Linked DNA regions of Homo sapiens: regions 1, 2, 3 and 5 are each linked to region 4. The links come from fine-mapping of genetic effects on gene expression. A gene starts in region 4. Each other region holds a variant in brackets. All regions are shown on one strand. Distances are between the middles of the regions.

What was found. PIP is the estimated chance that this variant, and not a neighbour inherited with it, causes the effect. A credible set is the group of variants that fine-mapping cannot tell apart.
Region 1: its variant is the best candidate, but not a certain one, in a credible set for the expression of PROS1 in subcutaneous fat (GTEx, PIP 0.68).
Region 2: its variant is the best candidate, but not a certain one, in a credible set for the expression of PROS1 in whole blood (TOPMed, PIP 0.56).
Region 3: its variant is the best candidate, but not a certain one, in a credible set for the expression of PROS1 in atrial appendage (GTEx, PIP 0.84).
Region 5: its variant is the best candidate, but not a certain one, in a credible set for the expression of PROS1 in whole blood (INTERVAL, PIP 0.61).

Annotation. Positions count from the first base shown.
Region 1 is chr3:93,721,942-93,728,417 of GRCh38, forward strand. No RefSeq gene overlaps it. Among named protein-coding and RNA genes, the nearest start is that of PROS1, 250 kb to the right of the region's middle. The variant G/C (reference allele first, on the strand shown) is at 3,788.
Region 2 is chr3:93,918,753-93,925,228 of GRCh38, forward strand. It overlaps PROS1 (protein S), which reads right to left. Exons shown (of 15, transcript NM_000313.4): 3 at 5,488-5,512. Among named protein-coding and RNA genes, the nearest start is that of PROS1, 52 kb to the right of the region's middle. The variant T/C (reference allele first, on the strand shown) is at 3,937.
Region 3 is chr3:94,146,390-94,152,865 of GRCh38, forward strand. No RefSeq gene overlaps it. Among named protein-coding and RNA genes, the nearest start is that of NSUN3, 87 kb to the left of the region's middle. The variant C/T (reference allele first, on the strand shown) is at 3,112.
Region 4 is chr3:93,971,215-93,977,690 of GRCh38, forward strand. PROS1 (protein S) reads right to left here and starts at 2,682. Exons shown (of 15, transcript NM_000313.4): 1 at 2,460-2,682. The coding sequence starts at 2,535. It also overlaps the pseudogene RNU6-511P. RefSeq lists a silencer at 331-625.
Region 5 is chr3:93,862,484-93,868,959 of GRCh38, forward strand. No RefSeq gene overlaps it. Among named protein-coding and RNA genes, the nearest start is that of PROS1, 110 kb to the right of the region's middle. The variant T/C (reference allele first, on the strand shown) is at 3,146.

The DNA.
Region 1 (6,476 bases), 250 kb before region 4:
AGTTTCTGAGAATGCTTCTGTCTACTTTTTATGTGAAGATACTCACGTTTCCAAAGAAAACCTAAAAGCCCTCCAAATATCCAAATGCAGACTTTAAAAACAGAGTTTTTCAAAACTGCTGTATTAAAAGAAAGGTGAAACTCTGAGAGTTGAACGCACACATCACAAAGTAGTTTCTGGAAATTATTATGTCTAGCTTTTATATGAAGATATTTCCTTTTCTACTCTAGGATTCAAAGCGCTCTAAATAACCACCTGGAAATACTACAAAAAGAGTGTTTCAAATCTGCTCTATACAAAGGATGGTTCAACTCTGTGAGATGAATGCACACATCAGAAAGAAGTTTCTGAGAATTATTCTGTCTAGTTTTATATGAAGAAATCCATTTTCCAACGAAGGCCTCAAAGAGGTCCAAATATCCACTTGCAGATTCTACAAAAAGAGTGTTTCAAAACTGCTCTATCAAGAGAAACGTTCAACTCTGTGAGTTGAATGCAAACATCACAAAGTAGTTTCTGAGAATGCTTCTGTCTGGTTTTTATGTTAGGATATTTCCTTTTCTAACACAGGCATCAGAGTGCTCTAAATACACACTTGCAAATTCTACAAAAAGTGTGTTCCAAAACTGCTCTATCAAAAGAGTGGTTAAACTCAGTGAGTTGAATGCACACATCACAATGTTGTATCGGAGAATGATTCTGTCTAGCTTTTATAGGAAGATATTTCCTTTTCTAACATATGCCTCAAAGCTCACTATATATCCACTTGGAAATTCTGCAAAGGAGTATTGCAAAACAGCTCTACTGAAAGGAATGTTCACATCTGTTAGGTGAATGCACACATCACAAAGAAGTTTCTGAGAATTCTTCTGTCTGGTTTTATATGAAGAAATCCCATTTCCAACGATGGCCTCAAACAGTTCCAAATATCCACTTGCAGATTCTACAAAAACAGTATTTAAAAACTGTTCTATCATGAGTAATGATCAACTCTGTGAGGTGAATGTAAACATCACAAAGTATTTTCTGAGAATGCTTCTGTCTAGTTTTTATGTGAAGATATATCCTTTTCTACAATAGACCACAAAGCGCTCTAAAAATCCACTTGCAAACTCTACAAAGAAACGTTTCAAAGATGCTCTATCAAAAGACGGTTCACCATTGTGAGTTGAATACAGACATCACAAAGAAGCTTCTGAGAATACTTCTGTCTACTTTTTATGTGAAGATACTCCCGTTTCCAAAGAAAACTTCAAAGCGCTCCAAATATCCAAACGCAGTCTTTACAAACAGAGTGTTTCAAAAGTGCTCTAAAAAAAGAAAGGTTAAACTCTGATAGTTGAATGCAAACATCACAAAGTAGTTTCTGGGAATGATTCTGTCTTATTTTTATATGAAGATATTTCCGTTTCTACCATAGTTTTCAAATCGCTCTAAATATCCACTTTGAAATTCTACAAAAAGACTGTTTCAAAACTGCTCTATCAAAAGGAAGGTTCAACTATGTGAGTTGAATGCACACATCACAAAGAAGTTTCTGAGAATTCTTCTGTCTAGGTATAAATGAAGAAATCCATTTTCCAACGAAGGCCTCAAAGAGGTCCAAATATCCACTTGCAGATTCTACAAAAAGAGTGTTTCAAAACTGCTCTATAAAGAGAAATGTTCACCTCCGTAAGTTGAATGCAAACATCACAAAGTAGTTTCTGTGAATGCTTCTGTACAATTTTTATGTGAAGATATGTCCTTTTCCACCGTAGGCCTCAAAGTGCTTTAAATTAAATAAACACCTGCAAATTCTACAAAAAGAGTGTTTCAAAACTGCTCTATCAAAAGAAAGGTTATACTCAGTGAGTTCAATGCACACATCCAAAGTAGTTTCTGAGAATGATTCTGTCTAGTTTATATATGAAGATAATTCGTTGTCTAATATAGACCTAAATCACCCTAAATATCCACTTAGATATTCTACAGAAAGAGTGTTTCAAAACTGCTCTATTGAAGGGAACGTTGAACTCTGTGGGTTGAATGCAAACATCACAAAGAAGCTTCTGAGAATTCTTCTGTCTAGTTTTTTTATTAAGAAATACCCTTTTCCAAAGAAGGCCTCAAAGAAGTCAAATATCCACTTGCAGATACTACAAGAAGAAGGTGACAAAACTGCTCTATAAAGAGGAAAGTTCAACTCTGTGAGTTGAATGCAAACATCACAAAGTTGTTTCCGAGAATGGTTCTGTCTAGCTTTTATGTGAAGATATATCATTTTCTACCATAGGCCCCAACACACTCTAAATATCCACTAGCAAACTCCACAAAGAAGTGTTTCAACGCTGCTCTATCAAAAGGAAGGTTCACCTCTGTGAATTGAGTACAGACATCAAAAAGAAGTTTCTGAGAATACTTCTGTCTACTTTTTATGTGAAGATACTCCCGTTTTCAAAGAAAACCTAAAAACCCTCCAAATATCCAAAAGCAGACTTTACAAACAGAGTGTTTCAAAACTTCTCTATCAAAAGAAAGGTGAAACTCTGAGAGTTGAACGCACACTTCACAAAGTAGTTTCTGGGAATGATTCTGTCTAGTTTTTATATGAAGGTATTTCCTTTTCTACCGTAGGATTCAAAGCGCGCTAAGTAACCACCTGGAAATACTACAAAAAGAGTGTTTCAAATCTGCTCTATAAAAAGGATGGTTCAACTCTGTGAGTTGAATGCACACATCACAAAGAAGTTTCTAAGAATTCTTCTGTCTAGTTTTAAATGAAGAAATCCCGTTTCCACCGGAGGCCTCAAAGAGGTCCAAATATCCAATTGCACATTCTACAAAAAGAGTGTTCCCAAACTGCTCTATCAAGAGGAATGTTCAACTCTGTGAGTTGGATGCAAACATCACAAAGTAGATTCTGAGAATGCTTCTGTCTAGTTTTTATGTGAAGATATTTCTTTTTCTACCATAGGCCTCAAAGCACTCCAAATATCCACTTGCAAACACTACAAAAAGAGTGTTTCAATACTGCTCTATCAAAAGGAAGGTTCACATCTGTGAGTTGAGTACAGACATCACAAAGAAGTTTCTGAGAATAGTTGTGTCTACTTTTTAGGTGAAGATATTCCCGTTTCCATGGAAAACCTGAAAGCGCTCGAAATATCCAGATGCAGACTTTACAGAGTGTTTCAAAGCTACTCTATCAAAAGAAAGGTAAAATTCTGTCAGTTGAAGGCACACATCACAAAGAAGTTTCTGAGAATTCTTCTGTCTACTTTTATATGAAGAAATCCCATTTCCAATGAAGGCCTCAAAGAGGTCCAAATATCCACTTGCAGATTCTACAAAAATAGTGTTTCAAAACTACTCTATCAAGAGGAATGTTCAACTCTGTGATTGAATGCAAACATCACAAAGTGGTCTCTGTGAATGCTTCGGCCTAGTTTTTATGTGAACATATTTACTTTTCTAAAAAGGCCTCCAAGCGCTCTAAATACACACTTGCAAATTCTACCAAAGAGTGTTTCAAAACTGCTCTATCAAAAGAAAGGTTAAACTCAGTGAGTTGAATGCGCACATCACAAAGTAGTTTCTAAGAATCATTCTGTCTAGTTTTTCTACGAAGATATTGCCTTTTCTACCATAGGCCTTAAACGGCGCTAAATATCCACTTGGAAATTCTACAAAAAGAGTGTTTCAAAAATGCTCCATTGAAAGGAACGTTCACCACTGTGAGTTGAATGCACACATCACAAAGAAGTTTCTGAAAATTCTTCTGTCTAGTTTTATATGAAGAAATCCC[G/C]TTTCCAAAGAAGGCCTCAAAGACGTCCCATTATCCAGTTGCAGATTCTACAAAAAGAGTGTTTCAAAACTGCTCTATCAAAAGGAAGGTTCAACTCTGTGAGTTGAATGCACACATCACAAAGTTGTTTCTGAGAATGCTTCTTTTTATTTTCCATGTGAAGATATTTCCTTTTCTACCATAGGCCTCAAAGCACTCCAAATGTCCACTTGGAGATTCTACAAAAAGAGTGTTTCAAAACCACTCTATCAAAAGGAAGTTTCAACTCTATGAGTTGAATGCACAGATCACAAACAAGTTTCTGAGAATGCTTCTGTCTAGTTTTTATTGATTTATTTATTTATTTTAAGTTTTTTCTTCTATTATTATACTTTAAGTTTTAGGGTACATGTGCACATTGTGCAGGTTAGTTACATATGTATACATGTGCCATGCTGGTGCGCTGCACCCATTAACTTGTCATCTAGTATTAGGTATATCTCCCAATGCTATCCCTCACCCCACCCTCCACCCGACAACAGTCCCCAGAGTGTGATGTTCCCCTTCCTGTGTCCATGTGATGTCATTGTTCAATTCCCACCTACGAGTGAGAATATGTGGTGTTTGGTTTTTTGTTCTTGTGATAGTATACTGAGAATGATGATTTCCAGTTTCATCCATGTCCCTACAAAGGACATGAACTCATCATTTTTTATGGCTGCATAGTATTCCATGGTGTATATGTGCCACATTTTCTTAATCCAGTCTATCATTTCTGGACATCTTGGTTGGTTCCAAGTCTTTGCTATTGTGAATAATGCCACAATAAACATATGTGTGCATGTGTCTTTATAGCAGCATGATTTATAATACTTTGGGTATATACCCAGTAAAGGGATGGCTGGGTCAAATGGTGTTTCTAGTTCTAGATCCCTGAGGTATCGCCAAACTGACTTCCACAATGGTTGAACTAGTTTACAGTCCCACCAACAGTGTAAAAGTATTCTTATTTCTCCACATCCTCTCCAGCACCTGTTGTTTCCTGACTTTTTAATGATTGCCATTCTAACTGGTGTGAGAAGGTATCTCATTGTGGTTTTGATTTGCATTTCTCTGATGGCCAGTGATGATAAGCATTCTTTCATGTGTTTTTTGGCTGCATAAATGTCTTCTTTTGAGAAGTGTCTGTTCATGTCCTTTGCCCACTTTTTGATGGGGTTGTTTATTTTTTTCTTGTAAATTTGTTTGAGTTCATTGTAGATTCTGGATATTAGCCCTTTGTCAGATGAGTAGGTTGTGAAAATTTTCTCCCATTTTGTAGGTTGCCTGTTCACTCTGATGGTAGTTTCTTTTGCTGTGCAGAAGCTCTTTAGTTTAATTAGATCCCATTTGTCAATTTTGGCTTTTGTTGCCATTGCTTTTGGTGTTTTACACATGATGTCCTTGCCCATGCCTATGTCCTGAATGGTAATGCCTAGGTTTTCTTCTTGGATTTTTATAGTTTTAGGTCTAACGTTTAAGTCTTTAATCCATCTTGAATTGATTTTTGTATAAGGTGTAAGGAAGGGATCCAGTTTCAGCTTTCTACATATGGCTAGCCAGTTTTCCCAGCACCATTTATTAAATAGGGAATCCTTTCCCCATTGCTTGTTTTTCTCAGGTTTGTCAAAGATCAGATAGATGTAGATACGTGGCATTATTTCTGAGGGCTCTGTTCTGTTCCATTGATCTATATCTCTGTTTTGGTACCAGTACCATGCTGTTTTGGTTACTGTAGCCTTGTAGTATAGTTTGAAGTCAGGTAGTGTGATGCCTCCAGCTTTGTTCTTTTGGCTTAGGATTGACTTGGTGATGCAGGCTCTTTTTTGGTTCCATATGAACTTTAAAGTAGTTTTTTCCAGTTCTGTGAAGAAAGGCATTAGTAGCTTGATGGGGATGGCAATGAATCTGTAAATTATCTTGGGCAGTTTGGCCATTTTCGTGATATTGATTCTTCCTACTCATGAGCATGGAATGTTCTTCCATTTGTTTGTATCCTCTTTTATTTCCTTGAGCAGTGGTTTGTAGTTCTCCTTGAAGAGGTCCTTCACATCCCTTGTAAGTTGGATTCCTAGGTATTTTATTCTCTTTGAAGCAATTGTGAATGGGAGTTCACTCATGATTTGGCTCTCTGTTTGTCTGTTGTTGGTGTATAAGAATGCTTGTGATTTTTGTACATTGATTTTGTATCCTGAGACTTTGCTGAAGTTGCTTATCAGCTTAAGGAGATTTTGGGCTGAGGCAATGGGGTTTTCTAGATATACAATCATGTCGTCTGCAAACAGGGACAATTTGACTTCCTCTTTTCCTAATTGAATACCCTTTATTTCCTTCTCCTGCCTAATTGCCCTGGCCAGAACTTCTAACACTATGTTGAATAGGAGTGGTGAGAGAGGGCATCCCTGTCTTGTGCCCGTTTACAAAGGGAATGCTTCCAGTTTTTGCCCATTCAGTATGATATTGGCTGTGGGTTTGTCATAGAGAGCTCTTATTATTTTGAAATACATCCCATCAATACCTAATTTATTGAGAGTTTTTAGCATGAAGGGTTGTTGAATTTTGTCAAAGGCCTTTTCTTCATCTATTGAGATAATCATGTGGCTTTTGTCTTTGGTTCTGTTTATATGCTGGATTACATTTTTTGATTTGCATATATTGAACCTTGAAGCCC
Region 2 (6,476 bases), 52 kb before region 4:
TCAGGCTGGTCTCGAACTCCTAACCTCAAGTGAATCATCCTCCTCAGCCTCCCAAAGTGTTGGAATTACAGGCATGAGACATCATGCCCAGTGGTTATGTGTATTTTTAAAATTTGTAAGTGTTCTTGAAAATATATATTTACAATTTCATTTCCATGTTTTTTTTCACGTGTGTAAATGGTTTTGTGTTATATATCACATCCTCTAATTTTTTTCTCAGAACTTGATTTTTATGATCAATCCATGCTGCTACATATAATTCATTGCTACTAACCACTAAGTGTTACACCACAGTATGCAACCACCACTTTATAATTCTCTCTACCCATGATAAGACACTCAAATTACCTCCAACTTTCTACCTCTACAAGAAGGCGGAAAGTACATCCTCATGCATGTCTCCTTAGTACCTGCATAACAATTTCTTTGGAATAGATACCCAGTGGTGGAATTGTGTGATCATTAAATAGGAATGTACTTAATGGCTCTCAGAGGTGCATTCTCACCAGTGGAGTATAAGGATTTCTACATCCTTGCTTTCTAATTTTTGGCAGACTAATAGGTAGTAAAGTAATATCTCATTATTTTTCTGATTTCTAAGGAGAGGCAGCATATTTTCATGTCATTTTCCAAATCTGAAAGTTTTCTTCTTTGAAAATTTTCCCTATTTTTTTTTTTTACCATTTTTCTATTGATCCTTATTTGTTTTTCCTGCGGATTTGAAAAAAAATAAACATTTATAAATATCACCTCTTGATATTTATATTTTTGATATTTATTTGACAGAGACAGATCTGTCATTTGTCTCTTAATCTTACTATTCATGTCTCTCTTGTAAGATAAATTCTTAATTTTGTTATAATCCAATTTATTATTTCACCTTACAGCTTGTGAATTTAAAATTTTCCCCCATGTCATCAGTCACAAAGATATTCTCCCATATTGTTTCTTTAATTTCATGGTTTTATTTTAACATTTTTGTCTTTATTCCATCTAGAATTCACCTTTACACTTGGTGGTAATTAGAAACCCATGTTTATTTGTCTGCTAATAGCTGGCCATTCTTCGCAATACCATCTTTAAATAATCCACAGTGACTTACAGTATCATCTTTATCAAATATTAGGTTGTCATAGATATGAGCCTTTCTCTGAACTTTCTGTTCAGTTTCATGTTCTGAAAATACCATATAGTTTTATTTCTATAGCTTTATATTATTAATATTTGATAAGATATTTCTCTCTTTTGTATTTTAGACATGTGTGGACTTTTAGTTCCTCAGTTAAATTTTAAAATGAGTTTACTGAGTTTCTCAAAAATATTTTTTTAAACAAGATTGCTCTGAACATATAAATTTGAGGATGGCCACACATAGTACCTCACACCTATAACCCCAGCACTTTGGGAAGCCCTGGCAGGAGGACTGCTTGAGCCCAGGAGTTTGAGACCAGTGTGGGCAACATAGTGAGACCCCATCTCTAAAAATATAAAATATAATAAAATAAAATAAAATCAATTTGAGGAGAACTGATCACTGTATAGTATCACTCAATTCAAGATCATGAAATATCTTTCCATGGTTTTAATTCATTTTCTAAGTCTTCAATTTGAGTATTAACATTTTCTCCATAGGGTTTTTATGTGTTCTTAAGATATTTCTAGATATGTTATGGGATTTGCTGCTATTGTGAATGCTATCATCTTTTTAATTTCTACTAGACTACTGCTTGCATAAAGAACTACTATGGATTTTTATAGGAGAGTCATAGAATTATCTAAATACCTTATGTGTTCCTATATTTTGTCTATGGATTCTATTTTTTTCCAGTATTATATCTATTAAAAGTAATGACAGGAATATACTATAGCTTATGATCTATACAATCCCTATTTTTCTTTTCTTATTGCATTGAATGTAACCTCCAGTACTTTTCTTTTTGTTCTCAACCATAAAGAAACTATACCTAAATTTTATTCATTAGGTATAATGTTTACTGCAGATTTTGTTCACTTTCTTTTTCTTTTCTCTCTCTTTCTCTTTCCATCTCTCCCTCCCTCCCTCCTTTCTCATGCTAATTTGCTCAAAACAACCCTATCTTATTCTTGTTCTAGCTGACATTACCTTATGCATTATTAATCCTGAACTGAAGTGTGAAAATTTGGAAGATTAATTATATGGTTATTCTAGATTTAACCTTTATCAAGCTCAGAAACTTTTCTTATATTCTTAGTTTGACAAAAACTTTTATCATAACTAAGTAGTGATCTCTATCAACTGCTTTTTCTGTATGAACTGAGGTAATAATATACTTTTAGTGGTGGGGTCTTACTATGTTATCCAGGCTGGTATCAAACTCCTGGCCTCAAGTGATCCTCGCACTTCAGCCTCTTGAGTGGCTGGGATTACGGGCATAAGCCACTGCACCCAGCTGATTTCCTGATGTTAACTCACCTTTAAATTTCTGGAATAATTCTACTTGATCATGATATTATTTTTAACACACTTAAGATCGGACTGAATATCATTTTATTTAGAATTAATTCAAAATCAAAAGGAATGCTATTTTTCTTTTCTTTTATTCCCTCACTTAAATTTTAAAATGAGTTTACTAAATGTCTTTATTTGATTTTGGAGTCAAGATTACATAAGCCTCTTAGAATAAGCTCATTTTTTAAGGACAATATCTTAATAAGGGAAACATTAACAATTTCTTAAAATTTGGAAGAGTTCATTTGTAAAACCATCTGGATCTGGGTTTCGGGAGAAATAGGAAGAAGAGGGCTTTGGCTGCGGTTTTAACTTGTTTAATACTCGTTTGTATAACTAAGTTCTCTATTGCTTCCTGTGAAATTACAGATATTTTATGTTTTTCTAGGAACACATCCATTTTATTTAGGTTTCCAAGTGTATTTAATATAGCTGTTTGTAATATTTTATGATAATATTTTTAATCTGTGTTGAGTTTAGAATATTTTCCCTTTCTATCTTGTACTCTATGTATTGGCATTTCCTCTTTCTCTTTTTTGTTTTTCCTTGATTATTCCTGCCAGATGTCAGTCTCACTTACTAACCTTTTCAAAGAATGAGAATGTGCTTTTGTTAATGCTCACTTTTGTTTTTCTATTCCACTTATTTCTATCTCTGTTTTTGTTATTTTAAAACTTCTTGTTACTTGGGGTTTGCTCTATTGTATTTTTTGTGTTTGTTTTCTCAATTGGAAAGTTCATGTCATTTTTTAAATTATCAAATCTGTTTTGTCACTACTGCCTTGTCAGTTAGAACCCAATCCCCCACCACACATACCAGCAGGTCAGGCCAGCTTTTCGCCTACCCAGGCATTTCTTAAACTTCTTTTTGTCATTTTATTTTGTTATTATTAGTGCTTGGAATCTTATTGTTTCTTTAGAGAAGATTTGAAGGGAGGGAGTCAGCATTCTGAGGTAATTCACCAACTTATCTTAGAAACTAAAAATAATTTCTTTTTTTTATTTTTCAGGTTTTTTCCTTATTTTATTTTTTGCCAGCTCACATCAAAAAATGATTTCTAATGTTTATATTTAGGCTCAGAGTTCACCATTCTTCCCAGGAAGTTTCTCTCTCTTTACTAGAAACACTCACTCTATTAGGTGATACTAGGCCTATGGAAATGGTAGTTATTTATTCCACTTCTTACAAAAGAGAAGAACACAATTTAAAAACTATAATGAAACCCAGAGTACTTATTTCCAAATCGCATGTTTTCAAGATAGTACATGGAATATGTAGGCCAATTGAAGTGCTTTATCAGCCCCTGAAAACGAAGTCTAAATATTGCCCCAAATATATGGGTTACAATTTTTTAATTTCTTTGGTGACCTTATCTCACTACAGGGACCTTCCTGTATGAGCTGTTGTAGTTAGTAAAACTACTGTTAGATTTACCAGAGAAAGGACTG[T/C]TTTGTTTTGCTTTTCAAATTAGAGCCATTGGCCTATAGAATATACACATCAAATAACAAAAAAAGTGTAACTTAGGCAGGACATTTTTAAAAATTGTTTTTAACAGTGGAATTCACCACACATGCCTATATACAAATAAAGACCAAAATATGAAATTTAAATTAAAAAAAATCATAATAAAAAGTATATTTTTGTTTCACATGATGGGTTGATTAAACAAGAATACATCTGAAGAAATTTTGACACATTAAGTTATTTATGTACGTTGACATATTTGGTGATTTAAAAGCTCTGAAGTTAGAAAATATAGTTACAGTGCACACTTAAAACTACAGAAGCTGGAAAGCTAAACAACTTGTTTAATCTGAAACAGTTAAAAATTTTTAGGTCTGAGCCTGGATCCCACATCTTGTGTTTTTGTTTTAGTTTGTTTTATTTTATACTTTGGTTTTTTTTACCATGTTGCCAAATGAGATAGGCAAAGAGAAGAGTTGGGCAGGGCCAGAAAAGCGGAAGTTAAGAGAGATACAAGGATAAAATTATGAAAAATATTTTATCTAAGGAACTTCCCCAGAACACATAATGCTGTATTAGCATGGTATTTATCTTTATCCAAATGTACTCTGATCAAAGGAATGTATCCTCTACAGTATTGTGCGTGCAAAAATGCAGCCTCATTACATGGCCCTAAGAAGCAAGAGTTAACACTGTTTTTTTAATGTACACATAATATTTAACAGCCAAATATTGTCTATTTTTATTATAAAATATTTACATTTCTATCTAAAATTAAAAAGCTGAAATAGTCTTGATATACTATCTTTTCTACACTTTAATAGTACAAATTCTTGCATGTAACTTTACAAAAGAAAACATCTTTTTCATGGATATATCCATATCCCACTGCCCTTTTAAAATACAGCAGCTAAGGCTGGGCAGGGTGGGTCATGCCTGTAATCCTAGCACTTTGGGAGGCTGAGGAGAGTGGACACTTGAGCCCAGGAGTTCAAGACTACCCTGGCCAACATGGCGAAACCCTGTCTCTACTAAAAATACAAAAATTAGCTGGGTGTGGTGGCACATGCCTGTAATCCCAGCTACTCGGGAGGCTGAGGCACTTGAGAATCACTTGAACCAGGGAGACAGAAGTTGCAGTGAGCTGAGAGCAGGCCACAGCACTCCAGCCTGGGTGACACAGCAAGGCGCTGCCTCACAAAAAAAAAAAAACAGTTAACCCATGAAAACGCATATGCTCATAGACTATGTCTAGCACCTCAATATAACTGAGCATCAGCCCAAGAGCTTCATGAGAAAGACATGAGAAAGAAAAACACTAAAATTTAAAATGTCACATGGTAATTAAAGAACCGTTCCAAATTTCTCAACATGTGTTAAATATAAAGACAGCAAAATTGCATATAAAATGAAACCTCACTCCCAAGGATAATGAAATTACATTGGATGGAATAGATAGGTGGAGAGTTAGACAGGAACATATCTAAGTTCCCTTCCATTTCTAAGATTATATAATTGAGATGTTTTGAACTTACCTAAGTATTTTGGATAAAAATAATCCTAGAAAGAAGAAAAAGAAAACATATCTTAGCAAACCTAAATTTCATTATAGAGTTAAAACTTAATTTTATAATGTGTTTTTATATTAAAGATGCAAATAAGTTACATATAACCATCATTTTCACATTATAATTTTTATATAGTAAAATATACCAAGAGAAAACAATAAAATTAAGCCAGTAAGATACTTAGGCTTAAAGAAATATTGATCAATTAATCATGTTTCAAAAGCTTCTAATCTAAAAACAAGCTCTATTTAGGATGGTAAATATAATCATACATGCCCTTTTTTGTACATCCTTTAATTTTTCCATAATGATTAGATAACCATTTGACACATTTTATGTCATAATGGTCACCTACACCAGATTCAATGTTGAATCACAGTAACGTACTCTCTTTTTTTTTTTTTTTTTGAGACGAGGTTTCTCTGTGTCACCCATGCTAGAGTGCAGTGGTATGACCATGACTCACTGCAGCCTTACCCTCCTGGGCTCAAGTAATCCTCCCATCTCAGCCCCCCAAGTAGCTGGAACTACAGGTACATGCCACCATGCACAGCTGGTTTTTTGTTGTTAATTATTTTTTTGTAGAGATGGGGTCTCACTATGTTGCCTAGGCCTCAAACTCCTGGGCTCAAGCGATCCTCCCACCTTGGCCTCCCAAAGTGCTGGAATTACAGGTGTGAGCCAAGGTGCCCAGCTAACAGTGACATACTTTGAAGTGAATTAAAGTAGACATTTATCTTATACATCTTATGTACATGTAGTACCTTACCTATAAATTGGTTGTGTACCAAAAGTTTGTCTGTAAATCAGTCAATTTGGAGTAAAGAATGTGCTTTCTTAAAAAGAGAAAAATGTTAAAAATTTCTGATAGTAAGGTTCTCAGGCTAGTCCACAAAAGCATTCTTAAGCCATAATATATCTAATGTGTACCATTAACAGCACAAGAATACCTCATG
Region 3 (6,476 bases), 180 kb after region 4:
GCCCTGTAGAAAGTGGCTTATCAATACTTAGCACTTTTCCACATGTACTACACAAGTATGCCTTATTTCAGGAAATTTGCAAAGCGGTAATCATATATTTCACCCTGTATTATAATAATATATTTTTCTCTTTCCTGAGTGTGATGTGCTGTCAACTATTTAGCATCTAATGTCACAAATTTCCAGCACTGCCAGATTAGAATGCCTCAAAGGCCTAATGACTCCTAAGTGGCTCACCGTCAGCTCGGTACAGCTAAGCAATTCCCATGCTGCTCAGGAGTCATGTATTATGCTGGCAGGCTGCCTCACTGGTGAGTTACCTTGAGACAAAAGTGTTGTCAACAGTGGAACAGTCAGTTTTTCCTTAAAGCCCTTTATTCACTCCTCTCCCCCAACTAGGTATAGCCGTATTTCTAGAGCAGCAATCACAAAGTACACCTAGTGATTTTATCAGGATTTCTGGCTAAATTAACTTAAACAGCGACACGAGTGGAAATATACCTCCCTGGCTTCCCTGCCAGCCTACCCTGAGAACATTCTGGCTTAATTTCTCTCTTTAACAAGACCAAGAAGACAGTCTTTTGCGTCTCCATGAGAAAAGTATTTACATATTCAGAAATCAGCTTGGCAAACCAGAGCTAAGAGTATGGGGAATAAACATTGTCTCTGTTCTTTTTTTCCTCTCAAAGTTGAGAATTAAATTCTTGAATATGATAAGAGCTAAAAGTTGGCAAAAGAGAGATGGCAACAGTGATGTGACATCTGTCAAAAAGTGTTGATCAGCGGAGGCCTCTCTGCCTACCTTGTGCACCCCTGGGCTCTCAGGTCCTTGACAGGTGTTTCCCTTTTTCCGCCTTCCTTTCCCTGGACTGGCTTCCTGGGCTTGATAGGGGCAGATGCAAGCATTCCACAGCTTGCATTGCCTCATTTAAAATGCACGGTGGGTAGAAATTAAAATTAAAATGAGTTCTTTTTTAAGCAAAAATGTCACCATTCTCTTTCAAAGATGATAACCTGAGTAATGACTATCAAGAGAAAAGATTGGTGTCAAATTATGAGGCTGTGCTTAGTGGGCTTATGATTTATGTATAGGAATACATCATTTTTTGACAAAGAGCAAGATGAGGTTGAAATTGTATTTATTTGGCAAGCCAAACTGGCTTCTTTGACTTTTTTTTTTTTTTTTTTTGAGATGGAGTCTTGCTCTGTCACCCAGGCTGGAGTGCAGTGGCACTACCTTGGCTCACTGCAAGCTCCACTTCCTGAGTTCACGCCATTCTCCTGCCTCAGCCTCCCGAGTAGCTGGGACTACAGGTGCCCGCCACCACCCCCGGCTAATTTCTTGTATTTTGTTTAGTAGAGATGGGGTTTCACGTTGTTAGCCAGGATGGTCTTGATCTCCTGACCTCATGATCCGCCCGCCTCGGCCTCCCAAAGTGCTGGGATTATAGGCGTGAGCCCCTGTGCCCAGCCTCTTTTACTTTTAAGCCATTGGCATACATTTAATATGTCATATGCACTTACTTAATATTGGGTAGCAAGGACATATGTGTTCATGTTCAAAACTAGGCTAGGCACTCCTCTACTGGATCACACAGGAAGTCTCCAAACTATTCTAGGAGATGAGAGCTGTCTCTTTGTGTTGTGATAGGTATTCTAAGCCATTCATTTTGAGCAAGATTTCTTTAGCTGTTTTCTCTGTTTCTCTCTCTTTTCTATTGTTACAAAGAGAGGTCTATAACTTTTGCAAGTAGAAAAATTGGTCTAACTACCACTAGCTTTCTTTGGAAATGTATATTTGCTTTCTTCCTGTCTCTTTCTCACTGGCATGTTATTTTAGCAGTCAAGCTATTTGTGTGTCAAAAATAAGTATGGTACATTTTCTAGTCTACCTTTACTAAGTAATAGTCATGAGTACAATCTCACATAAAATTTTGCAATAAGGAATTCAGGATAGGTTTTATTCTGCTTACTTCTCAAGAGAGCTGATTAAGTGAGAATCATTTGATCCAAATTCGTAGCTACTGCTGCCATGTTGAGTGCGGGGTGTCTTGAAGAGTATAATCCCCACCTTCCCACCAATCCAGGAAGGAAAATATTGAAGTTCCACATCTACAGCGTAATCTCTGTGTTCTGTTTCTTCTTGTCATTTTCGTTATATATACAGACCCCTCAGGAGAGAACAACGGTTCTGAGTCATATTTCACATTGCAACTCGTGAAGCATAAGAAATCTTGTTTCAAGTTGTGAAGAGGAGATCTGCACAAACACTACATACCATACAATACTTACAAAATTTAAGTTTGTGGTCCCTTCTTGAGTCCCACATGTAAAAATCACAAATCATGCTTTTGTGCATTTAGATATTTTACCAATGCTATTTTTCTCCCATCACATGTTCAAGAAGATCTTGGAAGAAGAGATATGCCATACGGAAAGAACAATGTCTTTGAAACGATTCAAATGCTTAGTAAATCATTTGGCTTCTGAATACTTGTTTACTCTTTTGTGGAATGGAGATGGTGATACTGTCATGAAGGGTTACTGTATGGTCTAGAAATCACTGGCGTTCAGGTAGGTAGACTCTTCTGAATCTGAGTCTACCACACTTTCCCTTGGCTGAGCATTATTCATAGTAAACCTGTTGTCCTGGATAATCCTGGTCACATGCAGTGTCCAGTACTGTGTATTTGTGTGCGGTTCCTAATGTGTCTAGTCTAACAGCTACTCTCACTGGTGTTCTGAGGCCCAGAACCTCTTAGAGCCAATGTGTTCTAGGTTTTCTAAGCTACTGCTTTCAATTCATGTTTTAAGCTATTTTTTTTTCTCATTGGTGAACATACAACTTTTGAAGTTCTGTTTCCCAGAGACTCCAGAGGCAGGCCTATGACTTGTTCATTCATCCATTCAACAAATATTTAGTCCTTTAACCAACCCCATATGCCATACCAACATTTCTAGATCCCCTTTACACTGTACATCTTCTATTTTTTTAATGTATCATTAGCATATCATGCAACTTATTCTTTTTTATTGCCTCTTGCTCCACTATAACGCAAGCTCCATTGGGACAGAGATCTTCATTTTATTCACTGATGCATCCCAAGCAAA[C/T]ACAATAATTCACAGGACATATCAAACATTTGTTGAATGAGTTTAGAATATATTATGTTTTAGGAACATGGGAACTGGTAAGTTATATTGCTCTTCCAGAGAACAGTTCATTCAGAAACTTTCTTGGTGTTCTTTAGAATTATTAAAGTTTCACATTGAGTATCCAGCTTCTTTCTTCTGTACACTAAAGCAAAGGTAACATCACATATTTTCTCTGAACTCCGGTAAGCTCTTGATCTCCTGTGGTCTGTGCCTTCATCCTCCTCCTCCTTATTATCATCATCACAGTTATCATCATCATGTTAACTAGTCTGCTAGATGGTTTCCAATGGTCTTTGCCAATGGTCTTTACACAAGCGTGTAGTCCTCTCCCGTATTGAATAGGGATGATGTGTGTAACCAATAAGAGATGATTATGTGTAATTTCTAAGGCTAGGTCATAAAAAATATTACAGCTTCAGCCTTTCTCTCTTAGATTATTTCCTTTAGGGAAACCAGGTTTCATGCCCTGAGGACAATAAAACAGTCCTCTGGAGAGGTCCAAGGAGCAAGGAACTAAGGCCTTCTGCCAAAGTTCCTATGAATGAGCCATTTTGGAAGTGGATTTTCTAGCCCTTGTCAAGACTTAGATGACTGAAACCCTAGCCAACATTTTGTCTGTAGTCTCGTGAGAAACTGAGCCAGAAACATCCAGCTAAACTGCTCCCAAAGTCCTGACACATAGGAATTGTGAGCTAATAAAAGATCATTGTTGTTTTAAGCTATTAAGTTTTGATGTAACTGTTACATAGCAGTAGATAACTAATGTAATCATCACTGCACTTCTTGAGTGCCTTCATGTACAAACAAGTATATGATTTCATTCTTAAAGCAAACATCTGAATTGTCTTAGCCCATTTTGTGCTGCCATAATAGAATAGCTGAAACTTCATAATTTATAATGAACACAAATTCATTTGGCTTATGTTTCTGAAGACTGGGAAGTCCAAAAACTTGGTGCTGGCGTCTGGAAAGGGTCTTTGTGCTGCATCATTCCATAGCAGAAGGTGAAAGAGCAAGTGAGCATGCAGGACAGAGAGGAAAGGGGCCAAACTTATCCTTTTATCACGAGCCCACTCCCAAGATAACTAACCCACTCCCATTATAATGGCATTAGTCCATTTATTATGGCAGAGCCCTTATGAACTAATCACCTCCTAAAAGTTCACTTCTCGATACTATGGCATTGAGGATTAAGTCAGGACACATGGCTTTAGCGGGCACATTCAAACTACAGCAGTAGTTATATCCTCATTATACAGATGAGAAAGTGGAGGGTCAAAGGTGTTAGTTTACACTTCCAGGGAGTGGAAGAGAGAGAATTTGATCACAGAATTCATTTTTAATGACTATGCTATTTTGAGTAGAGTATAATCTTTGGAGTATAAGGCTGCTTCTGGCAGAATGTCAGCATGGTACCTGAGAAACCTGGCAACCACAAATCACTTTCAATAATGTCCCTTTTCAGGTACAACATGCGAGCACATAGGTACTTTGATTTTCAGGAATTATCGAAAGCTTCTCCAAGTCCCATAAGATAAATGCACAGGTTTTCTTTAATAAAAATCCATGGCTCATGCTAAGTTTTTAATTAACTAGCTAGTAAGGTAGCTAGTTCCTGATGTGATGGCATTGCAAGAAAAGAGAGAGACCGCTAGGCACAGTGGCTCACACCTGTAATCTCAGGGCTTTGGGAGGCTGAGATGGGAGGTTCACTTGAGCCTAGAAGTTTGAGACCAGCCTAAGCAACATAGCAAAATCCCATCTCTACAAAAAATAAAAAAATTAGTTGGGTATGTGGCATGCACTTGTAGTCCCAGCTGCTTGGGAGGCTGGTGTGCCAGGATCACTTGAGCCCCGGAGGTTAAGACTGCAGTGAGCCATATTAGTGCCACTGTACTCCAGCCTGGGCAACAGAGAGAGAGAGATCCTTTCTCTCTAAAAAAAAAAAAAAAAAGGTTAAAAAAAAAAATCTTTGTCATTTCACAAATTCTTCACCAAGTCTAGCCTTCAAAGAGGGCACATTTCTTCAAAAGTAGGTGACCAATAGTGTCTTTCCCCTATTTTCCTGGGTTTGCTACTTTATATTTTATCTACAAAATGGCTATATCCCATAAAGGAGGACAGAACAGAAGAAATCCATAAAAACTTGGTAAATCCCTGACCTGAACTTTATCCACTTCCACTCTCCTATTGTGTTAGAATGCCTCTCAATCAGTCCTAAATAGGATTAAATGTAATTAAAGTAATTCTTCCAGCAGTACTCCATGAAAGCAATGTAGATATATGTTCTGATTGCTTAAAATGTTTACATGAGAATTAGACACAAAACTTCTGTCTGCAAAACAGGTGCAAAATTAAAATCTAACCGATGCATGCTTAAAGATAACAGCTTAATTTCCCCAAATTTATAAGCCACCTTATTTGCCATTTTTGTGCTCAATACTCCCATTGTCCTTTGTGTTTTAAATTCTTTTGCTGACTTATTTCCTGTGTCAGTTTTCCACAGTCAGCATCCTTTAAAATTGGCTTAGAATTTTGCTACAGAAAATGCTGAAAAATCCCTTGCTGATTGTGTATGGCATGTACCTCACATAAAATATACCATATCTCATTTTCTTTCTGAATAATTCTTCTTATAATCATGAAATTACAATGGAGGTAGGAAAACTATCTAGAGATGAACAAATGGTTGTTATAGGGTATATAATAGACTATTTTCCATGGTCACTAGCACTATATAAGACCTTGAACCTAAATTCGAAAAAGAAGGACACCAGTATAGAGAACCGAAGATTAGGTGTCAGCGCAAATAGCCAAATGGGAGATGTATTCAACAGGAAATTTAATACACCAACAGGGTGTTGTGGCAGCCAATAAAGCTAATGGGCATTAACACAAGAATGCTATCTAGAGGAGGGTGATAGCCATACTCTGCTCAGACATTTGCTAGAATATTGCATTATATTCTAAATAGCAAAATTTTAAAGGAATAGAAACAAATGAAGCTATGTTCAGATAACAGAATTTAAGATAGCAGAGTATTTGAAATCTATGTCACATGAGAAGCATATTCAAATATTTAATGAGCTCTGTGTATTCAGGTTCACATTTTTAATCACATTTTCAGAATATAGACCTAGAACCTATGCATAGGAAAAAAATAGGCTGAATCAAAGGAAAAAATAAGGAGATAATTAGCTGCTTCAAGAGGTGTGCGTTTGCAGGTATGGGTGGTGTTCAAATACAGAAAACTACTTGAGAGGGAATGCACACGGATGCATTATCTTTTAATGCACATTCACCTCATTCACTAATATGTTTTG
Region 4 (6,476 bases):
GCCAGCTGGTGCAATACCAGCTACTTGGGAGGCTGAGGTGGGGGGATCACTTGAACCCAGGAGGCAGAGGTTGCAGTGAGCTGGGATCACGCCACTGCACTCCTGCACTCCAGCCTGGGCAACAGAGCAAGACTCCATCTCTAAATAAATAAATAAATAAATAAATAAATAAATAAATAAATAAATAATTCTAAATAAAGAACTACACAATGAATTACAAATAAAATATTTACAGCTCTAATTATATCTCAGATTTAAAATCATATGGAGGCTGGGCACAGTGGCTCACACCTGTAATCCCAGCACTTTGGGCAGCCAAAGTAGGCAGGCCGCTTGAACCCTGGAGTTCAAGACCAGCCTAGGCAATATGGCAAAACACCAACTCTACCAAAAAAACAAAACAAAATAAAAACCACACACACACACACACACACACACACACACACACACACACACATAAATTAGCTGGGTGCGGTGCTAGATAGGTGCTGATCTGGGAGGATCCCATGAGCTCGGGAGGGGGAGGTTGCCATGAGCTATGATCATGCCACTGCACTCCAGCCTTAGTGACAGAACTAGACCGTCTCAAAAAAGTAAATAAATAAAAATAAAGTAAAATCAAATCATATGGATTAAAAACATCACATCTATATCCAAATTTCCTCATAAGTAAACCACAGATGACTTTTAATCCAATTAAGCAATCAAAAACTTTTAACTGAAAGCATTATGGGGCCAACTATTCTTTATGTGATATACTTGAAGAATTAATTTATCTGCTCTATCAGTGTTATATATAACAAGTGTAATTCCCCATATGTTTATATATAATACACATACACAAACCCATATAATTTTTACCTCTGCCTAGATTCAGTCAAAATGTAACAATCTCTACAAAGAGAAAAAGCCTAGCAAATTTCTATGATGACAAGGAGTTAAGTGTGGCAAGCTACTTTGCCTTTCTCCTCTCCAAAACACTAGCTATGAAGCAAATATTTAATTGTCCTAATGAACTATTTAGGTAATAAGCGCATGTAGTTACAAATTGGCTGAATGATAGGGGTTTGAATGCTGAAGTTTTGCAATTGTAGCTGTTTAATGTAAGATCAAAAAATAATGTTTTAGTCCCAAGTTAGATTTTTAAAGTACTGCATTCATCCTGATGACTAACTAATAGAAACTAGTGGAATGTTAGCAAATTGATATATAATTTTCTAGAAATTTCCATCTTCAAAAAGTTTACTTTGGAGCTCTAGACTCCTAAAAGTTATTTGTAATTCAGAGTTCTCACTCCTGTTCCAATCCCTGAAAATAAAACATAGAACAAGAAGTCATTTTTGGCCAGGTGCGGTGGCTCACGCCTGTAATCCCAGCACTTTGGGAGGCCAAGGCGGATGGATCACCGGAGGTCAGGAGCTCGAGACCAGCCTGGCCAACATGGTGAAACCCCGTCTCTAGTAAAAATACAAAAAAAAAAAAAAAATAGCCGGGTGTCGAAGCAGGCACCTGTAATCCCAGCTGCTCGGGAGGCTGAGGCATGAGTATCACTTGAAGCCGGGGGGCGGAGGTTGCATTGAGCGGAGATCCAGCCACTGCAGTCCAGCCTGGGCAGCAGAGCGAGACTCACCCTCAAACAAACAAACAAAAAGGCGTTTTTATTCAATAAACACACTTACAACTTTAGAAAACAAATTAACTGACCACTAAAATGTACTAATTGCCTTGGTATTCCTTATATATTTTTCAGAGAAAACTCAATATCCTGTCTTGAATCCGGGCATAAGGACATAAAGAACCTGAAACACAAAGATAAAGAATTCATGCCACCACCTCAGATCAGTGGCATGCAGTGTTAAAAAATCCTCAGTACAAACGATCTGAGAAATAGAATACAGTATTTAACAGTCCTTTTGATTTCAGGGTTAGAAAGTGACATATATCTACTGCTATACAAACCCTCAGTCATCCTAAAACATTTCGTTAATGTGAGACAAGCAAACCAAGCTCAAAGTCCAGAAATTGCAAAAGGGAGGCAGGTTTCAGGAGACGGGTGCAGGTTGGGGGCAGGCGCTTGGACAAAGGGAAGACACAGTGTGTTACCTTTTCTTCCCTACTCATAAGCTAGAATCTGCTCATCCTAGTTCTCTGACTGGGAACTTCAGCTTTGAAGGGAAATGGGCAGGTGTTCTCATCCCTCCATTGATACTTAGTGTCATCTAGGTTCTTAGATCTGTCCTGTAGGCAATACATTCTCGCAACTGTGCAAATAGTGATCCTGCCCCACCATTGCACTGCCTGCTCTATCCACGGCTGTTTCCATCCGCTGGGTGTCTGTCGGTACTTACTGGAAACTTTCTAGGAGGCTGCAGCTCTAGAGAAGAAAATCCTACCAACCAGGGCACGCAGTTCAGTCGACAATGCTGGGGAAGGGAGAAGAGACGCTATTGATTACTCACAGTTTGCCTCTGAGACGGGAAGCACTAGGAGGAGACACGCCAGCAGCGCCCCGCAGCGCCCACCCAGGACCCTCATTTCGAAGCGCGCGGAGGCGCCGGCAGGGACGGTGGCGCGTCGCGGCGGGGACCGGAGCGCTAGGCGCCGCGGAGCTGCGAGCCTGTGCGCCTCGGTCTGAGCCGTGCTGCGCGGCGGCGCCAGCGACCCAGCGAGCCTCGGCGGAACAGCCGGGGGCGGAGGAGACCGCCCGCTCCCAGCGCCCAGCCCGAGAGGGGAAGTGATAACAAGGACATTTCCAGGAAGCTTTTCGGAGCTGGGGGATGGGCTCTAGTGTTGGAGGCCTAGTAAACACTGCTGAGACATCCTTCTTCACCAGCTCCCTAGTTGCTGCTTTTCCTCCACAGTGTGACGTTTCCAAAGGGGAAGGGGTGGGGAACGCAGTTCTCTGACTGGTCAAGACAACTTCCAGGGTTCAAGAGGACAGGATCCCTAGGTTCAGAAGCAGAAACAGTGAGACACTGAGTTGTCCCTGAAGATATTAACCAAAACCTGGAAGTCAATGAGGACTTTAGGAAGAACTATGGTGATAGTAAAAGCAAATGGGGTCATTTTGATCATCCACATGTTTTTTCGGTCTTGTATGCCATACAGGCATAAAAATAATGTAAAGAACATGAAGAAAAGAAGGGAATATTAGAATAATCTACCTTAAAAAAAATCTTGCTCCGATAAAGACTTCAGTTGAAAGTGAATATCTATCTATACATCTACCTATTTATTAATTTAAAAAAATTTTTTTTTTTTTTGAGACAGAGTCTCACTCTGTCGCCCAGGCTGGAGAACAGTGGCGCAATTTCGGCTCACTGCAACCTCCACCTCCCGGGTTCAAGTGATTCTCCTGTCTCAGCCTCCTGAGTAGGTGGGATTACAGGCGCCTGACACCATGCCTGGCTAGTTTTTTTGTATTTTTAGTAGAGACAGGGTTTCACCATGTTGGCCAGGCTGGTTCTGAACTCCTGATCGTGAGTGATCTGCCTGCCTCGGTCTCCCAAAGTGCTGGGATTACAGGTGTGAGCCACCACACCTAGCCTTATTTATTTATTTATTTATTTATCCGAGACAGGGTCTCACTAGGTTGCCCAGACTGGAGTGCAGTGGTGCAATCATAGCTCACTGCAGCCTCGAACTTCTGAGCTCAAGCAATCCTCCTGCCTCAGTCTCCTGAGTACCTAGGACTACAGTCACACACCACTATGCCAGGCTAATTTTTTAATTTGTTTTTTTTTTTTTTTTTTTTTTTTGGTAGAGATGGTATCGCTGTGTTGCCCAGACTGGTCTGGAACTCCTGACCTCAAGTGATCCTCTTGCCTTGGCCTCCCAAAGCTTTGGGATTACAGGTGTGAGCCACTTCTCCTGGCCTGAATATCTTTTTAATACCACAAATTTGCATCACATTGCCAGTAATAATTGTCAACACTGAAAATTTATGTGTCCTACACTGTAACGTCAAACTTTGTAAAACCATCTGGAATCTATTAATATACAATTTGACAATACATCTTTCAATAAAATTCTGGGTTTTTAATTAATCTCAGAAGTTAACTTTGTGAAAGTGATATCTGGCTTTAGCTCAATATGAATTGACACTTGGTAATCTCATTTAGCCAAAGTTTGGTTTTGATACAGACCTTAATATACAATTAAAACCTGTCCAAAATTTAACTCTTAATCTAGTCTCATTCATAATCTTAATCCCATCATTTTTCCAGTGTTACACTTCTCCATATCATCTTCTACCAACATAGTGTCTACTTATCCACTTCTTCATCTGTCTTCACCAGTAAAATGTAAGATTCATGAGAGCAGGAATTTTTAAAGGTTTTGTTCACAACTATATTACTAGTGCTTAAAACAGTGACTGGTACATAAACGTTTCATTCTATTTAAGTCAACAGTGTGTGCCTGGGAATATTTATGCCAAAATATCAACAATTATCCTGAAATGACAGTGTTAACTAGAATCATAGCAGCATGACTCTTTTCATCATTCAGAATAAACCAGATTACACACTAAAAAGCCAGAAAATTACAGTGTTTTAGATAAGAAGTGTTTATTTCTTGCTCATTGGAAGTCTACTACAAGTCTGCATGACTTTCCAAGTAACTATCTTCCATGTGTGAACTCAGCAATTCATGCTGCTTTGATTTTACAATCCCTCAAAGTCAACATAGTCTTCTACAATTACCATTGCAAGAGAAGAGAGAACATTGAGAATTGTGCCCCAGCTCTTAAATACTTTTACCAAGAAGTGACATACCACTTACATTTCATTAGACAAAGCAAGGCACGAGGTATGCCTGACTTGAAGAGGGTGGGAATAACTGTTATTTCATGTGCCTGTAAGGAAAGAGAACTAGACATGGTGAGCAGCACTTATGGCTACCAAACCACTTAAGATATTCAAAAACTAAGAGTCAGCTTTGCTAAGGGACTGCATGTTGGCACCAGGAATGCTCGGTAATGTTATCACTAGCAGAAATGGGGAAGGCATGAAGTAGAGCAGATGCTTTAATAGTATTGTTTCATTATGACATGGCTGAGAAAAATAAAATCAACTACTGGCCCAGGCCACTGTGTGTATGGAGTTTGCATGTTCTCCCCACGTCTGCATGGGTTTTCTCCAGGTACTCCATTTTCCTCCCACATCTGAAAGATGTGGATGTTAGGTGAATTGGTGTGTTTAAACTGTCCCAGTCTAAGTGAGTGTGGGCATGTATGAGAGCACCCTGTGATGGAATGGTGTCCTGTCAAGGGCTAGTTCTCACCTTTTACCCTGAGATGCCACCTATGATCCTGAACTGGAATAAGTGGACAAATAATTATCTTACTTGTTGTTATTCATCTTTCTTAATGTATAGCTCACATTTATTTCAATGTTTACTATTACTAGTGGTTCCATCTTTATTTTGAAGTTTGGTGATGTTTTTGTGACCAGAAATGTGCCACAGGAACTTAATTGATTTATATCAATTTGTCTGTGGTAAAATTGGTTTTATTGTATGTTATTTTGTTTAAAATTATAGTTTCTAAGAACCTCTGGATGAAGATAAATGAGGATTTACTGCAAAACTGGTGTTGAGTATATATTTGTGAAAAAACAGTCTTGAATATAGTTCTAAAAATGCTCAAGAAACATACACATCATGAGATCCTTCAGTCACAGAAATAATAATCAAATTCCATCAAGACAACATGTTTTAAAAAAGAAAAGCAGAGGGGTAAGGTCATATCTTAGAAGTTACATATAGAAATCCAGAGGAGGAATGGCCTGGGAGATCAGAAGAGAACCAGGGGTTGTGCTCACTTCATCAGCACATATACAACAATTGGAATGATACAGAGAAGATTAGCATGGCCCCTGAACAAGGATGACATGCAAATTCATGAAGCGGTCCATAATAAGTTAAAAAAACAAAGAAGAAGAGAACCAGGGTAGGGTAGTGCAGTGCATAACTGTGAAAGACCAAGGCAGGAAACAGTTTTAGAAAAGTTAACTATATTATATATATATTAAATAATAGAAAAGAAAACCGATTTGGTAATTAGGAAGATATAAGTTATATCAAAAAATATGCTTTCAGTAGTTAGATGGGACAGAAGCCCAATCATAGTAAATGGATCAAAGAGTGAATACAAACAATATAACTTTAGGGTTTGCAAGACACTAGTTTAAGAAAGTGAGTCATGAAAGTAGAGTCAGCAGAAACAGTCCTAAATTGGCTTGGAGTTAATGGAGCATTGCAGTCTTATCCTGCCCTGCTCTCCTGTCTCCCACCATGGATATTTGGAGGTAGGAGGACACATACCATAAGTGTTTATGGGACAGGTGACACCAACTTTAAAATTTGCTATCTATTATTTATCAGAAATTACACTTGAGCTTCATTTCTCTCATTTCATCACCTTAGCAACCTGGAAAAGTAGGTATTTTAATTTCCATGTTATAGATAGGGTTGTT
Region 5 (6,476 bases), 110 kb before region 4:
ATTGGATGGTGCCTGCTCACACTGGGTGAGGATGGATCTTGCTTATTCAGGTCATTGATTCAAATGCCAGTCTCTTGTAGAAACACCCTCACAGATAGACCTCCAAATAGTCCTTTACCAGCTATCTGGGTATCCCTTAATCCAGTTAAGTTGGGCACCTAAAATTAACCAATGCAGTTGTTAAAAAAACACAAATAAAAAGTATATATTCAAATTAGTAAACTTGTACCACTTATAGGAAGTATTTTGAGCTTCTTTTCTCAGTCTAAAATATACTTTACATATTCTATTATACAATTAATAGAGCTAAATAATTTAGTCCCTGGATACAGAATAATATAAATCCCCAGAATAATTTCGAATGACACTTTTCCTGACTTTACCTCAACATGGTCATGGCACTACTTTTTCAGGTCTAATAGCCTGACACCTTCTAGTTTCTAGTCAGTCAAATTAAATGTAAGTAATAGTAAAGGTGATAAAAGCTACTTTTGGAAACACAGCTTTATTAATTAAAACTATTTTTTCTTATTTAACATTTGATTTATTTAATATCTCCCATTCTGCCCACTCCAAAGAAGCCTTATATTTGTTTTAATAAAAGGGATTAAAAAAATTTTAAAAGCATTATATAACTACCATTAAATGAATAGATCATAAAATTAAATTTTTATTTGTATGAATCTACAGTCTACAAATCAAGGCCAAATTGAATATGAGATTCTAGTATTTTTTTTAACTTTCTGAACCACACAATCAGCTCTCTGAAAATCATATAAAAGAACCACAATATATCAGTGCTTTAAAGTAATTCTTTCAGGAAGCAATAATGACATTTTAATGCTTTCAGAGGAAATACATCTGAATGAATTATGCTAGTTAATTATTTCCTAGGTTCTTTACCTTCCTCCTCACATAATTTACAAGCAACTCAGAATCTATTTCTTTTGTTAAATGACCATTAACATGAGTGCTTAGTGGATTAGCATTTCTGTTCATACACCATACTGATCTGAACGTATGTTCTAATGGTGCTGGTGAAAATTGTGATGCTGAAATATACGGCATAAAAACACATTTTAAGATTTTAAAATATTACTCTTTTCTTAAATCTGGCACTGTTAAACAAAGGGACAGATTTGAGCCACTTTAGATCAAAAGGAAAGTACAGTCTCTCTTCTTCCCCACAAAATTGAAATGAGGCAAATAAAGCAGCCTGTTACCATTTTCAAGTCTGGTTTAAGACAAGACAGGTTTGTTATGTGGATATATTTCATAATGCTAAGATTTGGACTTCTAATGATCCCATTGCACAAGTAGTAAGCACACAACTCAATAGGTAGTTTTTCAGCACTTGGACCCTTCCTCTCTCCCCACTTAGAATATCCAATGTTTATTGTTCCCATCTTTGTGTCTATGTGTACCCAATGTTTAGCTCCCTTTTATAAGTGAGAACATTTGGTATTTGGTTTCTGTTTCTGCATTAATTCTCTTAGGATAATGGCCTCCAGCTGCATCCATGTTGCTGCAAAGAACATGATTTCATCATGTTTTACAGCTATGTAGGATTCCATGATATACATGTACCACATTTTTAATGTTAATTTTATTTTTAAATTTATTCTTGGAGCCTATAAATTGGTAAATTACAATAGTAATAGCACAAATAGTAGCAATACAGAGTATTCAGCAATATTGTAATATTTCTTTTTACTCAACAGTCCACCTTTGTGTTTCACTTTCCATAAACAAATACACTGGATTAAAGCAATAATACTTCTCTCGGAATTCTGGAACTGGGACTGAAACCTAGAAATGATTATTACTCTGCCATGTCTGAACTGTATCTAACATGAACATATAAATGCAGAAGTGGTTGGCAGGCATGCCCCACAATGTAAACTGAAGAGTTGAGGAAACCAGCATGTATTGAGAGAGTAATATGTAGTTGCTTGAAGAGAAACAGTAATGAGAAACAAAGTGAAGGAACTTCCTTATTTCACTACAGCAAATCCAAGCCCCAGGAATATTCTTTCAGCCCTAGAATTCCATAAGATAACTAAATACCTTTTCTAAAATTCTCCTTTTGCTTAAGCTAATTCAAATTGAGTTTCTACTACTTGCAACCAAGGGAGCTGTAAGCTCATTTATATTGACTCTCAGTAACACAGGAGTATTTAGTGTTGAATATGAAGAGTCTGCTTTTGGTTTCATGAAAAGGATTGCTTTCTAATAGTCAGAGCTCACTGTAGCAGACATGAACGGGGTTCTGCCCAGACCACCTCCAAGAGAACCTTCTGCAAAATAGAGCTGACTGACAGACCACTTGTTATTCCTCTGGACCTACCGGGCTGCTTCCCAACTAATGACTGAGCACAGTGAGGGTACTTATGCCAGGCCCTTCCTGCTTGATGCAGGACCCTTCTGATGGGCAACTTTTTTCAAGAACTCCTCATCAACATAGCTGAAACCTTCTTAGAACTGCACTCAGATCTGAGACTTCCTATCATCCTACTTCCTTCTCTCCTTCACAGGTGTCCAATTTACATGGCTACATGAAGATTCTTCCTACCCATTCCTGTACCCTCCTTTTTCCTTCACAGATGTTTCTCCCTGTTTTATTTGTTTGCTAGGGCTGCCATAATGAAATATTACAGAGTAGGGGGCAATTGGATTTTTTGCAGTTCTCGAGCCTGAAAATCTAAGACCAAGGCATGAGCAGGTTTGGTTTCTCTTGATGTCTCTCTCCTTCTTTACAAATGGTCATGTTCTTACTGTGTCCTCACATGGCCTTTCCTCTGTGTCTGAGCATGCCTGGTGTCTCTCTCTCTTTATAAAATGACACCAGTCATATTGAATTCTGGCCCAACCCATATGACCTCATTTAACCTTACTTACTTCCTTAAAGGCCCTATCTCCAAATGTAGTCACTTTGGAGTTTAGGACTTCAATATTTCAACATATGAATTCTGGGGAGACACAATTCAGTCCTTAACACCTGTCTAATCTCTGTTGGAATCTGCTTTTTGAAAGTCCCAAACTGATGCCGTGAACAAAGGGAAAATGAGCTGACTTTGGTTAATAGTGAGCTCTGCATCAGTGAAGATGGTCACACAGAGCCTGAGAGATGACTGTCCAGTGACAG[T/C]GACTGGTCCACTTGATTAGATTTCTATCTAAATTCCACACTCACAGAGTTATTTATTTTTTATGGAACATTAACAATTAAAAGTAACCTGGAATCTGTCAGTTTGATACTAAGATAAAAGACTAAATTAGCATCTTTGAAAACATGATATGAGAAGAATCATAGAAGACACATTTGCTTTCTAGGTTAGTCATCTTTATGACCGTATTTGTACAAAGGCACATAGATATTTGTGTCTTGTTCATTCATCTATATCTATCCCAAATGCCCAGAAAGCATAGTGTTTGGCACATTTTGTGTGTTCCACAAATAGTTGTTGGATTAATGGATTGGTCATTGCCTTCCCAACACCCCCACAGTTACCATACCAATAGGTTCTCAGGTTCTATGTGTTAGAAATAACTGGAGGACTGTGATGATTATGATGCAAATGAGAGATTTAAGATGAATGATTTTACTGATTTTTCTTTCTTTGTTGGGTATTTTGGAAAGTTCCACATGGGAGGTAGAAGATACAAGTCTTCATGTTTAGTTTTATGGCCCCCGAAGGCATCCAGGTATTTCTTCTCTGGGTTGAACAATCTGACTCCCAAGAAGTCTACATTATTATACCAGAATCTTTCTAGTAATTAGGTTCATTAAGGCTTAGTTTTTCTTCCTAGAAATAAAGGCTGACAGGAAGGAGGGAAGACTTAGGATTGGATGCCATGCTTCATGGCATCCATGAAGCTGAAATGAGCTGATGAGAGAAAAAATAGTGAGTGCTTAAAAGCTGCAGATACTTAGGTTTCTAAGACATTCCTGGAGAATATCTATTTGAAACATCAGAGGGGAGAGTATAGATACCAGGAATAGGAGAGTTTCACTCAAATTGGCTTGGCACAGATAAAAATTTCTTTGAAAGCTACTCTTTTTAGTTGGGTATACATTTGTCAAAGGTTTTCAAGAGCACCAAGTTCTGACCTCTAAGCAGATTCTTTAAAAATCAGCAAACTAACACAGGAACAGAAAACCAAGCACCGCATATTCTCACTCATAAGTGGGAGTTGAACAATGAGAACACATGGACACAGGGAGGGGAACATCACATATCAGGGCCTGTCGGGTGGTGGGAGGCAAGGAGAGGGATAGCATTAGGACAAATACCTAATGCATGCAGGGCTTAAAACCTAGATGATGGGTTGATGGGTGCAGCAAACCATCATGGCACATGCATACCTATGTAACAAACCAGCACATTCTGCACATGTATCCCAAATCTTAAATAAAAAAAAAAAAATGGTACTTGCAGAGAAAAAGAAAAAAATATTTAAACTTTTAGAATAATTATTCTACATATTTCTTGAGTTATATCAAAGTCAGAAGAATGTTTGAAATTGATAAAAAAAAAAAAAAAAAACTCCTCCAAGGAGGTATTGAACATGTATCAAGGGTAGCTACAGCATTATCTCAATGATTGATTCTACCACCGAGTGCAGTCCAAGCAAGCTTCTTCCTTCACGTAATAGGATGAATATACCACTCCCTTTAACTCAGTAGTCTTCATAAGCTAGTAAATTGACATCCTACTGGATTTTTCTCTCATGACATCCCAGGTGTTGCCCATTGTATTTCTAGCTCACCATTAGTGTGCCAGTTACAGCTGATGATGCTTGGGCTTATTGTATAGCAGTAAGTTTAAACGTTTTCGTAGTTCCATTTTCAGCATGAAATTCATCACATGTTCAGAAGAGTCCTTTTTACTCTGCACTTCCCCAAATGCAATAACTGACAGCTCCATTTGTTGTAAATTGACTGAACCCCAAAGAGGTCAGGAATAAGGCAGAGAGAGATTAGTGGTTGCAAGCTCCCCACAATCCCCACTCCTGGCAGAATGTCACAAGGTCATCATTCCTGTACCATCCTACAGAGGATTTCTTGATGACCAAGAAGGTCAGAGATGATTTGGGGGTGTATGCTGTCTAGCAGCTACTTGGCCAACAGCTCCCCCTCCAGGGCACTGGAACATCATTTCCACAGCAAGTCAAGGTTGCATCCTCACCTTGGATAAACTAGCTGAGGACCCTCTTCCTCCTGCCTCACTTTCCATTTCCTTGTCTCTTCCTTTGTGATTTATCCTCTGTCTCTTTCTCTTTGCTCATCATCTCTTTCTTTCTCTGGCTTTTTTCATTTTCTAAAATCATTTTCTACTTGTTCCTATTTCCTCTTTCCAGACACATTCTTCTCTCTCTCATAATCTCTGAATTATATTTTTTATAATCTCTGCCTCTTTCTTGTCTTTAGTCTGGAAATCTTTCCCTCTTTCTTTCCATTTATATTTGTTCTTTATGTCTGTCTCCCTTTTTTATGTTTGGGGTTTTTATTGTTTGTTTTTGAGATAGGGTCTCACTCTGTTGTCCAAGCTGGAGTGCAGTGGTGTGACCATAGCTCAATGCATGCTTGTACTCTTGGGCTCAAATCATCCTCTCTCCTCAGCCTCCCAAGTAACTGGGACTACAGGCACACATGCCACTATGCCTGGCTAACATTTTTTTATTTTTTATTTTTATATTTGTAGATATGGGGACTTCCTTTGTTACGCAGGTTGGTCTTGAACTCCTGGCCTCAAGCAATCCTCCCACCTTGGCCCCCCAAGATTTGGGGATTACAGATGTGAGCCACTGCACCTATCCCCTTTAATATGTTTGGTTAAACCTCCTCTCCCCTACCAATTTTCTCTCCTCTCTCTTTTCTTTTTTTCCTTCCTTCCTCCCTCCCTCCCTCCCTCCCTTCCTTCCTTCCTTCCTTCCTTCCTTCCTTTCTTTCGTTTTTTTTGAGACAGGGTCTCACTCTGTCACCCAGGCTGGAATGCAGTGATACAATCATGGTTCACCACATCCTCAACCTCACCTGGCTCAAGTGATCCTCCCACCTCAGCCTCCTGAGTAGCTGGGACTACAGGCATGGGCGACCAGGTATGGATAGCTTTTTGGGTTGTTTTTTTTTATTATTATTTTTTTGTAGAGACAGGGTTTTGCCATGTTGTCTAGGCTGATCTCTGACTCCTGGGCTCAAGCCATCTGCTGGCCTCAGCCTCCCACAGTGGGATTACAGGCGGGAGCCACTGCACCTGGTCCCTCTCCTCTTTCTTATATGCTTATCTGGTGTGGCATCAATTTGTCGCTATCTACTGCTATTTGTTTACAAAAAAAGTAGATATTTATTTTTCTATTATTTCTCCATCTCCTCTTCACCCTCCTCATCAAGTATCTTTCTATATTCTTTACTTTTCTTTCCCTCATTTTCAATTTTTATCTTACCAAATCTTTCACTGAATTTGTTTCCTACCTTT